Linked DNA regions of Homo sapiens: region 1 is linked to region 2. A link means that fine-mapping ties the variant in region 2 to the expression of a gene that starts in the linked region. Tissue or cell type: unexposed skin. Region 2 holds a variant in brackets; the other region holds the start of a gene. All regions are shown on one strand. Distances are between the middles of the regions.

Region 1 (8,000 bases), 170 kb before region 2:
CCTGCCAAAGCCTCCGGAGTAGCTGGGATTACAGGCATGTGCCGCCACGCCCAGCTAATTTTTGTATTTTTAGTAGAGACAGGGTTTCACCATGTTGGTCAGGCTGGTCTCAAACTCCTGACTTTGTGATCCGCCTGCCTCGGCCTTCCAAAGTGTTGGGATTACAGGCATGAGCCACTGCTCCCGGCCCTAAAACATTCTTTTACCTGAAAAATTGTTTGACTGAAACTCTAATTTAACTGGGCACCTTCTGTTTTGTCTGGCAGCCCAATTGAGAAACAAGGCCGGGCATGGTGGCTCATGCCTGAATCCCAGCACTTTGGGAGGCGGAGGTGGGCAGATCACTTGAGGTCAGGGGTTCGAGACCAGGCTGGCCAACATGGCAAAACCCCATCTCTACTAAAAATACAAAAATAAGCCAGGTGTGTTAGCACACGCCTGTAATCCCAGTTACTGGGGAGGCTGAGGCAAGAGAATCACTTGAACCCAGGAGGTGGAGGTTACAGTGAGCCGAGATCATACCACTGCACTCCAGCCTGGGCAACAGAGCAAGATTCCATCTCAAAAAAAAAAAAAAAAGAAAGAAAGAAAAAGAAGATTGAGAAACTTGAAGCCTATATCCTTTCTTAAGAATTATCCAACACAAAGTTGTCAGACAACAAACAATTCTGGTACAGGTGAGGTGGCCTGGGGGAAGTCACTTTCACTCTCTTTGGCAGATACTTTATTTTCCACCTTTCCTCAGATTACATGTAGGTTTTCGGTTGAAGCCATGGAACAGATTTCATAACCAAGTTCAAGCTTTCCTGATGACCTAGCTGTGTGACTATGGGCAGGTTAGTTTAATGTATCAGTTTCCTCAATCATAAAACTTGTGAAAATACTGATATTTATATTCTAGGTTGTTGAGAAGATTCAAAGACATGATGTCTACTAAGTGCCTAGCAGCAGTCCCAGGGCATAGTATATGCTCAATAAGCGAAAGCCATTAGTATTGTTTTGATAGTTTTAAACACTAGTAGACTTAAAACACACTAAATTTCAGATGGTAGCATACCTCCTACTCACACACAGGCCATAGGGTCCATTAGCTCCACATCAGGACCATTCTAATTTTTTTTTTTTTGAGACAGAGTCTCGCTGTGTCACACAGGCTGGAGTGCAATGGTGTGATCTCAGCTTACTGCAACCTCCACCTCCTGTGTTCATGCAATTCTCCTGCCTCAGCAACCCAAGAAGCTGGGATTACTGGTGCCTGCCACCACGCCCGGCTAATTTTTTGTATTTTTAGTAGAGACGGGGTTTCACCATGTTGGCCAGGTTGGTCTTGAACCCCTGACCTCAGGCGATCCACTCGCCTTGGCCTCCCCAGCTGCTGGGATTATAGGCATGGGCCACCGCGCCTGGCCCCATTCTAATTTTTCACTTCATTGGATTACAGTTGCTGTTTTTGGTGGGACATGAGGTTTCACACCCAGTATAGGAGACCTGATAATCTTCCCATTTCCGTCTAAACCAGAGTCTCCAGCTCTCCCACTGTCTCAATTATTCCAAATGCTATTTGAAACCGTATGTATACTTTGTGATAAAGAGCATAATATAAGAGATGGAAAAGCTCAGGGTTATTTTGAAAGGATGGAAAGCCCAACTTTGAGGAAAAGGAGTAGAAAAAGGGGGAAAATGGAAGTACTTGGTTCTATTGTGTCTGGAATTCGTAGGTTCTTGGTCTCACTGACTTCAAGAATGAAGCCGTGGGCCCTCGCGGTGAGTGTTACAGCTCTTAAGGTAGCGCGTCTGGAGTTTGTTCCTTCTGATGCTCGGATGTGTTCGGAGTTTCTTCCTTCTGGTGGGTTTCTGGTCTCGCTGGCGCAGGAGTGAAGCTGCAGACCTTCACCGTGAGTGTTACAGCTATTAAGGCGGCATGAACCCAAACAGTGAAAGAACAAACCTTCCACGTTGTAGAAGGGGATCAAGCGGCTTGCCACTGCTGGCCCGGGCAGCCTGCTTTTATGCTCTTATCTGGCCCCACCCACATCCTGCTGATTGGTAGAGCCTAGTGGTCTGTTTTGACAGGGTGCTGATTGGTGCGTTTACAATCCCTGAGCTAGACACAAAGGTTCTCCAAGTCCCCACCAGATTAGCTAGACACAGAGTGTCCACACAAAGGTTCTCCAAGGCCCCACCAGAATAGCTAGATACAGAGTGTGGATTGGTGCATTCACAGACCCTGAGCTAGACACAGGGTGCTGATTGGTGTGTTTACAAACCTTGAGCTAGATACAGAGTGCTGATTGGTGTATTTACAATCCCCAAGCTAGACATAAAGGTTCTCCAAGGTCCCACCAGAGCAGCTAGATACAGAGTGTCGATTGGTGCATTCACAAACCCTGAGTTAGACTCAGGGTGCTGATTGGTGTATTTACAATCCCTGAGCTAGCCATAAAGGTTCTCCACGTCCCCATCAGACTCAGGAGCCCAGCTGGCTTCACCCAGTGGCTCCTGCACCGGGGCTGCAGGTGGAGCTGCCTGCCAGTCCCGCGCCGTGGGCCCGCACTCCTCAGCCCTTGGGTGGTCGGTGGGACTGGGCGCCGTGGAGCAGGGGGTGGCGCTCGTCGGGGAGGCTCGGGCAGCACAGGAGCCCACGGAGGGGGTGGGAGGCTCAGGCATGGCGGGCTGCAAGTCCCGAGCCCTGCCCCGCGGGAAGGCAGCTAAGGCCCGGTGAGAAATGGAGCGCAGCGCCGGTGGGCTAGCACTGCTGGGGGACCCAGTACACCCTCCGCAGCCGCTGGCCGGGGTGCTAAGCCCCTCATTGCCCGGGGCCGGCAGGGCCAGCTGGCTGCTCCCAGTGCGGGGCCCGCCAAGCCCACGCCCACCCGGAACTCCAGCTGGCCCGCAAGCGCCGTGCGCAGCCCGGGTTCCCGCTCGCGCCTCTCCCTCCACACCTGCCTGCAAGCTGAGGGAGCCGGCTTCGGCCTTGCCCAGCCCAGAAAGGAGCTCTCACAGTGCAGCGGTGGGCTGAAGGGCTCCTCAAGTGCCGCCAAAGTGGGAGCCCAGGCAGAGGAGGCGCCGAGAGCGAGCGAGGGCTGTGAGGACTGCCAGCACGCTGTCACCTCTCACTATGCAATGCTTTTCATAGGAACTCGGGAATGTTTGTGTTCTGGACAGGTAGGTTATGGAAAGAGCAGTGGACTCGGGGTCATCAGGACAGGTTCCAATTGTATCAGTGCTACTTATGAGTCAAGTCGACTTAGGAAAGTTATGTATCTCTCAGTTTTTTTGTTTGTTTTTCTTTTTTTTTGAGATGGAGTTTCGCTCTTGTTGCCCAGGCTGGGGTGCAGTGGCATGATCTGTGCTCACTGCAACCTCCCTCCCAGGTTCAAGCGATTCTCCTGCCTCAGCCCCCCAAGTAGCTGGGATTACAGGCGACTACCACCATGCCCGGCTAATTTTGTATTTTTAGTAGAGATGGGGTTTCACTATGTTGGCCAAGCTGGTCTCAAACTCCTGACCTCAAGTGATCCATCCACCTCAGCCTTTCAGAGTGCTGGGATTACAGGCATGAACCACCATACCTGGCCCATATCTCTCAGTTTTGATTCCTTATCCTTAAAATGGGAATATCGTGGTGTTTGGGGGGAAATTGAATGAAAAAAAAAGATATGCAAGCATGGCACCCCCAAAAAACTCATTAAGTCTAACTTGGTTTTGAGAGAACTTCACAGTGACCATGGAACATGTGCTTTTAATATTCGGGCGGCAGCTAATATTGTTACTTTTGAGTATGTGCACATGTATTTCTGTGTTTATCGTAATATTGATGTTAGCCACAACATTTATAGAGCATTGACTGTGTTGGGTGATCAAACTATCCCAGTTTGCCCAGGACTGAGATTGCTCCCAGGATGCAGGACTTAGTGTTAAAATGGGGAAAAACTGGGCTGGGCGCAGTGGCTCACACCTGTAATCCCACACTTTGGGAGGCCGAGGTGGGCGGATCACGAGGTCAGGAGATTGAGACCATCCTGGCTAACACGGTGAAACCCCGTCTCTACTAAAAATACAAAAAATTAGCTGGGCGCACTGGTGGGAGGCTGAGGCAGGAGAATGGTGTGAACCCGGGAGGCAGAGCTTGCAGTGAGCTGAGATCACGCCACTGCACTGCAGCCTGGGCAACAGAGCAAGACTCTGTCTCAAAAAAAAAAAAAAAAACGGGGAAAAACTGGGAAAATATCAGTTATCCTTCTACTATATGCAAATCGCTCTGTACACGTTATCCCGTTAACCCTTCAAAGCAACCCTATGAAGTAGGGACTCACATTATTGCCATTTTACAGACGGAAAGGACACTTGGAGAGATTAAACAACTTGCCAAGCCACACAGCTAATTAATGAGAAGAGTAGGATCTGAAGTATGACCTGTCCAATTGTAGATCCCAAGAACTTAACCACCATACTCTGTGCTTTTCGACGTCTCCAAAGGTCTTTTATTGCTGTTGCCTCTGTTATTCCTGGAACATTGCTAAACACCTTCCCATGTTCCCTTCTGTCACCAACACTTCCTGCTGCCCACCTGGGCCTCCAGCAAAGGGAGACACCAGCTCACAGAGCTAGGTCATGCCCAGTCTTGTATGTAGGCACCGCAGAGGCCCCTCCTTCCCTTAGCAACAGACGCTGAGACATGGTTACTGTGCCCAGCGCCTGCATACAAGCACTGCCAGTGTTAAGAGTCCAGGGAGGAGGAGGGAGAACAGTTCGGGCTGCCAGGATGTTGTTTGGAGGGGTGAGTCTCCCTCTTCTCTGTATTAATGTGTAACTCTGCTTCAGTCTTTCCTCTGCAGTGAACTCAGTGTGTTTCTGGAAAATTTCCAAGAGAGAAGCACTCAAGGGAAAGGAAGCGTGGCCACCGCTGGGGGACTAGGAACCAGAGCCAAAAGCGCAGCAGAAACCCAGTGCTGTCCCCTTATCTCTAGCTTCCCTTTCTCTCCTTTTTTACCAGGGAACTCCTCAGCGGGCCAAAGTCTATGACCTCAGAGAGGCAACCTCATGAACAGAGCTTTCAGAACATCTGGAAAGTTCCATTGTTGGTGTCATCCCCATTATGCTATAAGGAAGTGTGAATTTCAGACCAACTGGATAGGAGAGGCACATCCCTGGAGAAGCTGAAAGCTCTTTATTCATTTTAAAAAAATAGCTACAATTAGAGTGGACACCATGGGTGACATGGATTGCTCATCTCAGAAGGTAGGTGTGAATTTTAAGACGTTTCTTGTTTTACCTGTATTTTTTTTTTTTATTTTTTATTTTGAGACAGAGTTTTGCTCTTTGTTGCCCAGGCTGGAGTGCAATGGTGTGATCTCGGCTCACTGCAACCTCCGCCTCCTGGGTTCAAGTGATTCTCCTGCCTCAGCCTCCTGAGTAGCTGGGATTACAGGCATGTGCCACCACACCTGGCTAATTTTGTATTTTTAGTGGAGACAGGGTTTATCCATGTTGGTCAGGCTGGTCTTGAACTCCCGATCTCAGGAGATCCGCCTGCCTCAGCCTCCCAAAGTGCTGGGATTACAGGTGTGAGCCACCGTGTCTGGCCGATTTACCTGTATTTTTAATGTGTTGGGAATATGTGGGAAGAGGGCCAATTGGCATGTTAGATGCCCTTGACTGAACAAGTGTATTCATCACATTTTTTTGTTGTCTGCTTTGAAATATCATTTTTGCTGAATTAGACTTTTGGAAATCTTCAAGTTTTGCTGTGAAAAATCCGGGAATAGACACCCGTTCTTCCCTTTCCTTCCCTTCCAAGCCCATTAGACCATATATTCCAACCATCAGTTTTTGACTGTGGCTGAACATTAGAATATTCTGGGGAGCATCTTAAAAACATAGAGTCTTGGTCCCCCACTCCTAGATTCCGATCCAGAAGATTTGGAGTGGGGCCCTGGAATCTATATTTTTATCTAAGACCAGAGTGATTCTGGTGTAGCACGTCCTCAGACGAGCATTTGGGAATGGCCTCCATGAAGAACATACATACAACATGTGTAATCAGCAATAAGCTGCCCAAAGTGACAGTTCTACCCAATCTAAGTTCCAGAATTTCTGTTGTATCTGTGTTGAATCACCAGGTTGCCATACAGCGAAGTGCCCAGAGGAGCATTTTAAATAGAAACTTTGTAAAACTAAAGTGGATTTGTAGATAATAACTAAGCCAATATGCTCTGAAGTGAAAGCTCCTTGAAATTTACCAAAGAGAAGATTTAAGCATTAATTTCTTTCTTTCTTTTTCTTTCTTTCTTTTTTTTTTTTTGAGACAGTTTGTCTCTGTTATCCAGGCTGGAGTGCAGTGGCGTGATCTTCACTCACTGAAGCGTCTGCTTTCTGGGTTCAAGCGATTCTCCTGCCTCAGTCTCCTGAGTAGCTGGAACTACAGGTGTGCGCCACCGCCTGGCTAATTTTTGTATTTTTAGTAGAGACGGGATTTCTCCATGTTGGCCAGGCTGGTCTCGAACTCCTGGCCTCAAGTGATCCACCCGCCTCGGCCTCCCAAAGTGCTGGGATTATAGACATTAGCTACCACGGCTGGCCAAGCATTCATATTTTTAACAAACAATTTTGCACAACCAGCTAGTTCTTATGAGAATCTCGATCTCTTGAAGGTGCCACAGAGGATTCTTAGCCATTTATTGCCAGGAAAACTCTTTTAGCCCCATTCTGCAATTGATGCCTAGATCTGCTCATGTTGTGTGTGCCCCATGTGTTCCTGATCGACAGACTGGGATGCTTTCTGCTATCAGCGTACTTATGACTGTTTGTGTATTTGTTTTAGTCCAAGCCTATGACATAGCCTAGTTTAATTTGTTTCTACAGAGGTTCTCCCTCTTTCCATTGTGTTCTGCAAAATGCTCACGGTTTGCTTTCTTCATTATCCCGAGAACAGCGTCCCTGTCAGTTTGCATGATGCAGTAAGGAAGCTGAGGCAGGAGAATCGCTCGAACCTAGGGGGTGGAGGTTGCAGTTGTAGTGAGCCAAGATTGTGTCACTGCACTCCAGCCTGGGCGACAGAGCGAAAACTTGGACTCAAAAAAAAAAAATAAATAATAATAATAATAATAAATAAGTCACTGACTTAGAAGTCAAGCCGGCCAATTACATGGCTAGGATGTGTTACCTATCTTCTCACCCTCATTTTCTTCAGCTAGAATGCGGGTATGAAAAAAATCTCATGAGGTTGTACAGTACCTGGCACATAATCGTTTGGAATAATGGTAGATAGTATTGCTGCGGTTGTTGTTTTTCTGTTGTTATTTAATGAGGTAGGTGCTCCGGGAGAGATAATGATGGTTAATTTGAGTCATCTTTAAGGGGTTGGGGGCAGAGGGACAGCTAATAGTCATATGCCCCCTGCCCCATCCCACCCTCATCAGTGATCTTGCATGTCATAATTTGCACACCCAAATAAATCACACTGATACGATGTTGGCTCATCTTATATAGGAGTTAAGTCCAAAGTCAATGCCTAAGGTGAAAATCACAGAGAGTCAAAATTGCCCTTGAAAATCCCTCAAACCACCTTTAAAGTGCTGAACGGCAGCACCTCTCAATAAGTCCAGGCCAACAGCTTTTCTTCTAGTGTTGGAACAAGTTGCAGTTTCTCCATCACTAGTCCCAGGTGAAGTGGTTGTTTTGCATATAGGGGCTAAGTCTTAAGACAAAAACACATGTGATTTCATTCAATAATGTAGTCACTTTCTTCTCTGCTCAGGAGAGGTGGAGGGTCACTTGGAATCTGAGAGTGATTGTGGGAGCCACAAGTTGACCCTTACCTGAGGCTCACTCCACAGTATGCACTCACTGGTTGGAATGGAGTACTCAACACCCACATTGTTGAAATAACACTTTTTCTTTTCGCAGGAATCATAAAGAGTTGCTTATGTGTGTGTTAAATACACAGAAAATTCAGTGCCACTGCCTGAGTGAATTTCTCTTTGGAATTTTGCACATGT
Region 2 (8,000 bases):
AGGAGTGCGAGCGTACCGCCCGGGACTGGCAGGCAGCTCCACCTGCAGCCCCGGTGCGGGATCCACTAGGTGAAGCCAGCTGGGCTCCTGAGTCTGGTGGGGACTTGGAGAACCTTTATGTCTAGCTCAGGGATTGTAAACACACCAATCAGCACCCTGTGTTTAGCTGAAGGTTTGTGAGTGCACCAATCGACACTCTGTATCTAGCTGCTCTGGTGGGGCCTTGGAAAAACTTTATGTCTAGCTCAAGGATTGTAAACACACCAATCAGCACCCTGTGTTTAGCTCAAGGTTTGTGAGTGCACCAATCAACACTCTGTATCTAGCTGCTCTGGTGGGGCCTTGGAGAACCTTTGTGTAGATGCTCTGTATCTAACTAATCTGATGGGGACGAGGAGAACCTTTGTATCTAGCTCAGGGATTGTAAATGCACCAATCAGCACCCTGTCAAAACAGACCACTCGGCTCTACCAATCAGCAGGATGTGGGTGGGGCCAGATAAGAGAATAAAAGCAGGCTGCCCGAGCCAGCAGTGGTAACCCGCTCGGGTCTCTTTCCGCACTGTGGAAGCTTTGTTCTTTCGCTCTTTGCAGTAAATCTTACTGGTGCTCACTCTGTGGGTCCACACTGCTTTTATGAGCTGTAACACTCCCCGCGAAAGTCTGCAACTTCACTCTTGAAGCCAGCGAGACCACGAGTCCACCGGGAGGAACGAATAACTCCAGACATGCCGCCTTAAGAGCTGTAACACTCACCGCGAAGGTCTGCAGCTTCACTCCTGAGCCAGCGAGATGACGAACCCACCAGAAGGAAAAAACTCCGAACACATTCGAACATCAGAAGGAACAACCTCCAGACGCGCCACCTTAAGAGCTGTAACACTCACCGCGAGGGGTCGCGGCTTCATTTTTGAAGTCAGTGAGACTAAGAACCCACCAATTCCGGACACAAAAGGAGATTTTCACTTTCAACAAAAGTATTCCTGAATTGATAGACTCTTTTACAATGATCATGTATTGCCTTTATCTTTTAAAAACATTCTTGAGGCTGGGCGCGGTGTCTCATGCCTGCAATCACAGCACTCTGGGAGGCCTGTAGTCCCAGCTACTCTGGAGGCTGAGGCTGGAGAATCTCTTGAGCCCGGGAGGCGGAGGTTGCAGTGAACTGAGATGGCACCACTGCACTCCAGCCTGGGCAACAGAGGGGAACTCCATCTCAAAAAGTAATGTAATATAATACAACATGATATGATATAATAATGAGCACTAAACTAGCACTCAGTAGAACTTCCGCAGTATGGAGATGCTCTATATCTGTACTGAGCAATACGGTAGCCACTAGCCACATGTGGCTCTTGAGCACTTGAAGTGTGGTGAGACTAAGGAAGAGCATTTTTAATGTTATTTAATATTAATTAATTTAAGTTTAAATTTGCTGCAGGTGGCTAGAGGTTGCCATATTGCACAGCACAGCTCTGGAACATGAAGGCAGAAGGCAAAGCCACCTCGTGTGCATCCTAGGGTCACAGACAGTGTGAGAATATGTGTTTTCCAGGATGATTCACTTGTGTGTTGTATTCCCCAGGACGATTCACTCGCCATCTGAATATCATTTCCATCAATGCCTTTGAGGATGACATTTTAACCAAGATTTTCAGTTCGATTGTTGACTGGCACTTCGGGAAAGGGTTTGATGTGATGTTTTTAAGGTAAGAGGTTTCTCTGTCTTCCTGGATAGTGGGCTGGGGGTTCTCAGTTTCTGGCCCCTCCTTGACTACTGTGCCATCCCTTTCCTCCCAAGGTACGGAAAGATGCTGGTCCAAGCTACTAAGACAATTTATAGAGATGCAGTGGAGAACTTCTTGCCAACTCCCTCGAAGTCACATTACGTCTTTAACCTGCGGGACTTCTCACGAGTGATTCAAGGGGTCCTGCTGTGCCCTCACACACACCTGCAGGTCAGCCACTATCATTTTACTACCAAGATCATTCAGCATATCCTTGGCTACATAGAACATGTAGTAATAGCAGTAATAGCTAACTTTTATTAGGCACTTAGTCTATGCTAGGCATTGTGCTAAGCATTTTATAAACATTATCTAGTTCAATCCTCAAATCAACCCCAGGACTTACCTACTACTGAGAACTACCACCTCAGGGACCATCTTCCACTCGTTTGAATAATTAACTCTGGATTTTTAGGATGTAGAAAAATGTATCCGGCTTTGGATCCATGAGGTTTATCGGGTCTTCTATGATCGTCTGATTGACAAGGAGGACAGACAGGTCTTTTTCAACATGGTGAAGGAAACCACCTCCAATTGCTTCAAGCAGACCATAGAGAAGGTAAACCAGATTCTGTGATCATTTGACCTCAGAAATGGTTCCAAGTGTTTAACCACGTTACTTTCAGATTTCAGGTTCCCTTCCTGTTGGAGACTGCCAGCTCTGCACTCTGAATCTCGGGAAACAGTATTGAGTCAACTGCTCTTTTTGACTTGGTGATATTTTACTTGGTCCAACTTTGCTTCCCTTCTGTTGTAACATATAAGTTTGAATCCACTCAAAATGGCTTAACATGCATTTTAAGTTCATTATAAATGAATGTTTATTATGAACTTAAAATGCATTTTTAGGATCAATTAATTGGTGAGTTGAGAAATGAACTGTACATTGTCATGATTTGACTGAGGTCCTATAAAGCTCAAGTGAAAGATTGTTATGGTTTTCCAGGTGTGAATATTTTCTCTTTTCCATTTCCATATAAGAAAAGTTGTTTTAAACATCTATATTTTTATCATCTGGTTATTCTTCCACTGCTAAGAAGCTGTGATTTCTCCATAGAAAAATTTCAAGTGTTTTATCTTGCGTTCAGAGGCCAAGTGCAAAAGCGTCACTGGGTTCTAACATAGGACGAGGAGGCATCTAAAACGTTCCTACTCCAGGCACAGAGTGGGGACCAGGATAGTGTCTATACTTCTATTTGGTGGAGGATCAAGCACCTAAGAAAAGCACATCCTTCAACTGTCTTTTCTGGGGACCGTACAAACTGATCACC[A/G]ATGTTTTAATCACATGGCAAATAGACTGATTAAAGCGTTCATACTCTAATGTCCTTTCTTTTAACAAAAAAAATATTTATTTTTAGAGGTAGGACCTCACTCTGTCACCCAGGCTGGAGTGCAATGGTATGATCATAGCACACTGCAGCCTCAAGCTCCTGGGCTCAAGCAGTCCTCCACCTCGGCCTCCTGAGTAGCTGGGATTACAGGTGTGCACCACGATGCCCAGTTAATTTTTTCTTATTTTATTGTAGAGACTGAGTCTCACTATGTTGCCCAGGCTGGTCTTGAAGTCCTGAGCTCAAATGATCCTTCTGCCTCGGCCTCCCAAAGTGCTGGGACTACAGGCATGAGCCACCGTGCCCAGCAATGTTCTTTCATTATAGTCTTTACAAGCATGAAATCCACATATTATGTTTAAAAAACAAAAAGACTGGGCCGGGCACAGTGGCTCATGCCTGTAATCCCAGCACTTTGGGAGGACGAGGTGGGCAGGTAACCTGATATCAGGAGTTTCAGGACCAGCCTGGCCAACATGATGAAACTCCATCTCTACAAAAATACAAAAATTAGCCAGGCATGATGGTGGGTGCTTGTAATCCCAGCTATTTGGGAGGCTGAGGCGGGAGAATCGCTTGAACCCAGGAGGCAGAGGTTGCAGTGAACCGAGATCACACCATTGCACCCCAGCCTGGGCGACAGAGTGAGACTCTGTCTCAAAACAAAACGAAACAAAACAAAACTGATGACCCATGACCTTGAAGGATGTGCTCAGAGGAAATAAGCCACGTCTCCCATGCCCTCCCTCCATGATGTCCCTACCAGCCTGGCTGGGCCATTCACTGAATGCCCCGCCGAGATTTACTTTTCTTACAGGTGCTTATCCACTTGTCACCCACTGGAAAGATAGTCGATGATAACATTCGAAGCCTCTTCTTTGGAGATTATTTCAAGCCAGAAAGTGACCAAAAAATCTACGATGAGATCACTGACCTGAAACAGCTGACTGTGGTCATGGAGCACTATCTGGAAGAATTCAACAACATCAGCAAGGCCCCCATGTCCCTGGTCATGTTCAGGTTTGCCATTGAGCACATCTCTAGGATCTGCCGTGTCCTGAAGCAGGACAAAGGCCACCTGCTCCTGGTGGGCATAGGGGGCAGCGGGCGGCAAAGTGCCGCCAAACTGTCCACATTCATGAACGCATACGAGCTATACCAGATTGAGATCACCAAGAACTACGCAGGCAATGACTGGCGAGAAGATCTTAAGAAGATCATACTGCAGGTCGGTGTGGCCACCAAGAGCACCGTGTTCCTCTTCGCCGACAACCAGATCAAGGATGAATCATTCGTGGAGGACATCAACATGCTTCTGAACACAGGTGACGTGCCTAACATCTTCCCTGCTGACGAGAAGGCTGACATCGTGGAGAAGATGCAGACTGCAGCCAGGACCCAAGGAGAGAAGGTTGAAGTCACTCCTCTTTCTATGTATAACTTCTTTATTGAGAGGGTGAGAAAGAACCTTCACATTGTCCTCGGTAAGAAGAAGAAAACTCCATTTGCCCTTGTTCTTCTGGGTGTTTTGGGGTCTTCTGAGTGCCCTGAGCAGGCCAATCCCTTACAATGGTCCCAGGGTTGATTCAGCCAACGCACCAGCTCGGGGTCAGGGCCCGGAGTTCCTCTGGCAACTTTTTTCACTCTTCTGAGCAGCAATTTTTTTTTTAAAGACAGTCTTGCTCTGTTGCCCAGGCTGGAGTGCAGTGGTGAGATCTCAGCTCACTGCAACCTCTGCCTCCCAGTTTCAAGCGATTCTGGTGCCTCAGCCTCCTGAGTAGCTGTGATTGCAGGCGCGTACCACACCTGCTAATTTTTGTATTTTTAGTAGAGAGGGGTTTCACCATGTTGGCCAGGCTAGTCTCATACTCCTGGCTTCAAGTGATCTGCCCGCCTCGGCCTCCCGAAGTGCTGGGATTACAGGCATAAGCCACCGTGCCGGACCCTGAATAATTTCAAACCTGTCCCCCGTCTTCAATTTCCTGAATTCTCCTCTGAGAATTACCCTTGCACAGAATGACATCTCGGGTTTTCTCTGTGAACGACATTTCCAATGTATCTAGAAACCTAGCAATTGTGTTTAGTACTTCCCTTTCTTTACCAAGTCCTGTCTGTTACCTCCAGCTGTCTCATATCCACTCTCTTATCTCCATCTCCATCACCTTCACATTGGCTAAGCTGCCATCCTTTTACCCAGGCTCACCTCTGCAACTTTCTAATCATTCTAGCTCCATTCTTGTCTGTTCCATGAAGCCAGGCTGATTTTTTTCATATGCTGCAAATATTATCATTGTGTTCATGCATGCATACACACACACACACACGCACGCATGCGCACACGTGCACACATATACACACACACACACACACATTGGGATAAGGACCAAAATTACTAACCTGCGGTCTCATAATGCCATAAGGCCACCTGCCAGACTGTCCTCTGTATCCTCTCCACCTTCATCTTTTCAAACCATCGCCCTTTCTGTCTTTTTTTTTTTTTTTTCTGGATATAGGGTCTTGCTCTGTCACCCAGGCTGGAGTGCAGTGATGTGGTTCTAGCTCACTGCAGGCTCAACTTCCTGGGCTCAAGTGATCCTCTCACCTCAGCCTCCTGAGTACATGGGACTACAGGCACACACCACGATGCCCAGCTAATTTTTTCCATTTTTGTAGAGATAGGGGACGGGGATGTGGGGTTCACTTTGTTGCCCAGGTTGGTCTGAAACTCCTGGGCTCAAATGATCCTCCTGCCTTGGCCTCCCAAAGTGTTGGGATTACAGACGTGAGCCACTGTGCCAGGCCTCTGTTCTTTACCCACAGTGACCTTTCACTTCCACCTAGACATCATGCTCCCTTCCACCACACATAGTCTAAATAACAATGAATGGAATTTTAAGTGTGGAACCCAAAATTTGTTATTGGCCAGAGATGGGATCAGAAACAAGCAGATGACCTCACAGCAACTTCTATAAATAACAGTGTATGGCTCCCGTGTATCAGCACAAATACAGCAAGTCAATCAAAGGGCTCCAGCCACACTGGCTACGTGACCCGAAGGATGCGGAAGGAACAATAGTGTGTATGGGAGACCAGTTAGAAGGTAATAGACTCAGGCATGGTGGCTCACGCCTGTAATCCCAGCACTTTGGGAGGCTGAGGCGGGCAGATCACTTGAGGTCAGGAGTTTGAGACCAGCCTGGCCAAAATGGTGAAACCCCGTCTCTACTAAAAATACAAAAATTAGCTGGAAGTGGTGGTGGGTGCCTATAGTCCCAGCTACTCAGGAAGCTGAGGCAGGAGAATAGCTTGAACCCAGGAGGCGGAGGTTGCAGTGAGCCGAGATTGCGCCACTGCACTCCAGTCTGGGTGACAGAGCAAGAATCTGTCTTAATAAAAAATAAAAAATTAAAATTTTTTTTAAAAAGGGGCTATTGTAATGGGCTCCTCACAAAGTTAAGTGAAAATATCCCACTAATTAGCCCGCATTTCCCAGGCACTCATTATGGCCATTGACAGTCACATCCCTGGAGCGCCAGGAGGAAGCCTGCCCCCACTTACCCCACCAGAATCCTTGGGAATACCCGCCTGCCTCCTTGGGTCCACCTGCCTTGGAGGAAGGTAATTAACAAAATCTCCTTTTCATTAGCCATGAGTCCAATAGGGGATGCCTTCAGGAACCGCCTGCGGATGTTCCCTTCGCTGATCAATTGCTGTACGATTGATTGGTTCCAGTCCTGGCCCACAGATGCCCTAGAGTTGGTGGCTAACAAATTTCTAGAGGATGTGGAGCTTGATGACAACATTCGGGTAGAGTAAGTGTTGATTGCATTTTAGGACTCTAGATATTCCAAATTTGAAGTCCAGACGCTGGCTCTATTTTTGTTGTTGTTTTGAAGATTTCTCAATTTGTATATAGCAAATGTCTTATGCTTTTAAATTGAATCACAGTTAGTTAGATATTTAATAAAGCATCTTGTCTGTAAAAGAAGAAAATTTCATTGTTCAGAATTGTCCTGGAGATTTGTCCTAGCTATGAGAACCTGGAATAATGATATAGCTATTTCAGTAGTCCTAGAATATGCATTCTCAACAGGAAGAAGATTGCTGCTGAGACCACAAAACAATGTTTGTTTGTTTATTTGTTTTTGAGATGGAGTCTTGCTCTATCCCCCAGGCTGGAGTTCCTTGGTGCAATCTCAGCTCACAGCAACCTCTGCCTCCCAGATTCAAGTGATTCTCATGCCTCAGCCTCCCCCAAGCAGCTGGGATTACAGGCACCTGCCATCACGTCCAGCTAATTTTTATATTTTTACTAGATATGGGGTTTCGCCATGTTGGCCAGGGTGGTCTCGAACTCCTGACCTCACGTAATCTGCCCGCCTTGGCCTCCCAAAGTGCTGGGAATACAGGTGTGAGCTACTGCACCTGGCAAAAATTAGTTCCTATAAGGGTGAAAATTTACTCTTTTATGTATAAAGCACATATATATATGTGCTTTATTATATATATATACTTAATTATATATATTATATATTATATATGTGCTTTATATATATGCTTTATTATATATAATATATGTGCTTTATACACTTTATGTATGTATATATGCATACATATATAAAAAAAGCATTTTATTTGGCTAGAGTAAGGGAAGAGGTGAGAATATCAGTCATTCTGGATGTTCCATGAAGGCTAGAGATCAGTCAACCTTGTCTACCTCTGTTTCCTTAGTTTCTAGAAGGTGCTTGGCACACAGTAGGTTCAATCATTGTTTATTTTATTTATTTATTTATTTATCTATTTATTTTGAGATGGAGTCTCACTCTGTCGCCCAGGTTGGAGTGCAGTGGTGCGATCTCGGCTCACAGCAACCTCCGCCTCCC

The links. PIP is the estimated chance that this variant, and not a neighbour inherited with it, causes the effect.
Region 1: it holds the start of DNAH3, and the variant in region 2 is fine-mapped to the expression of DNAH3 in unexposed skin (GTEx, PIP above 0.99).

What each region holds. Positions count from the first base shown.
Region 1 is chr16:21,147,531-21,155,530 of GRCh38, reverse strand. It overlaps DNAH3 (dynein axonemal heavy chain 3), which reads left to right and starts at 4,685. Exons shown (of 62, transcript NM_001347886.2): 1 at 4,685-4,780; 2 at 4,997-5,241. The coding sequence starts at 5,212. RefSeq lists an enhancer at 2,229-2,523.
Region 2 is chr16:20,981,650-20,989,649 of GRCh38, reverse strand. DNAH3 (dynein axonemal heavy chain 3) reads left to right here. Exons shown (of 62, transcript NM_001347886.2): 45 at 1,585-1,708; 46 at 1,801-1,957; 47 at 2,202-2,345; 48 at 3,935-4,601; 49 at 6,764-6,929. Among named protein-coding and RNA genes, the nearest start is that of LYRM1, 85 kb to the right of the region's middle. The variant A/G (reference allele first, on the strand shown) is at 3,058.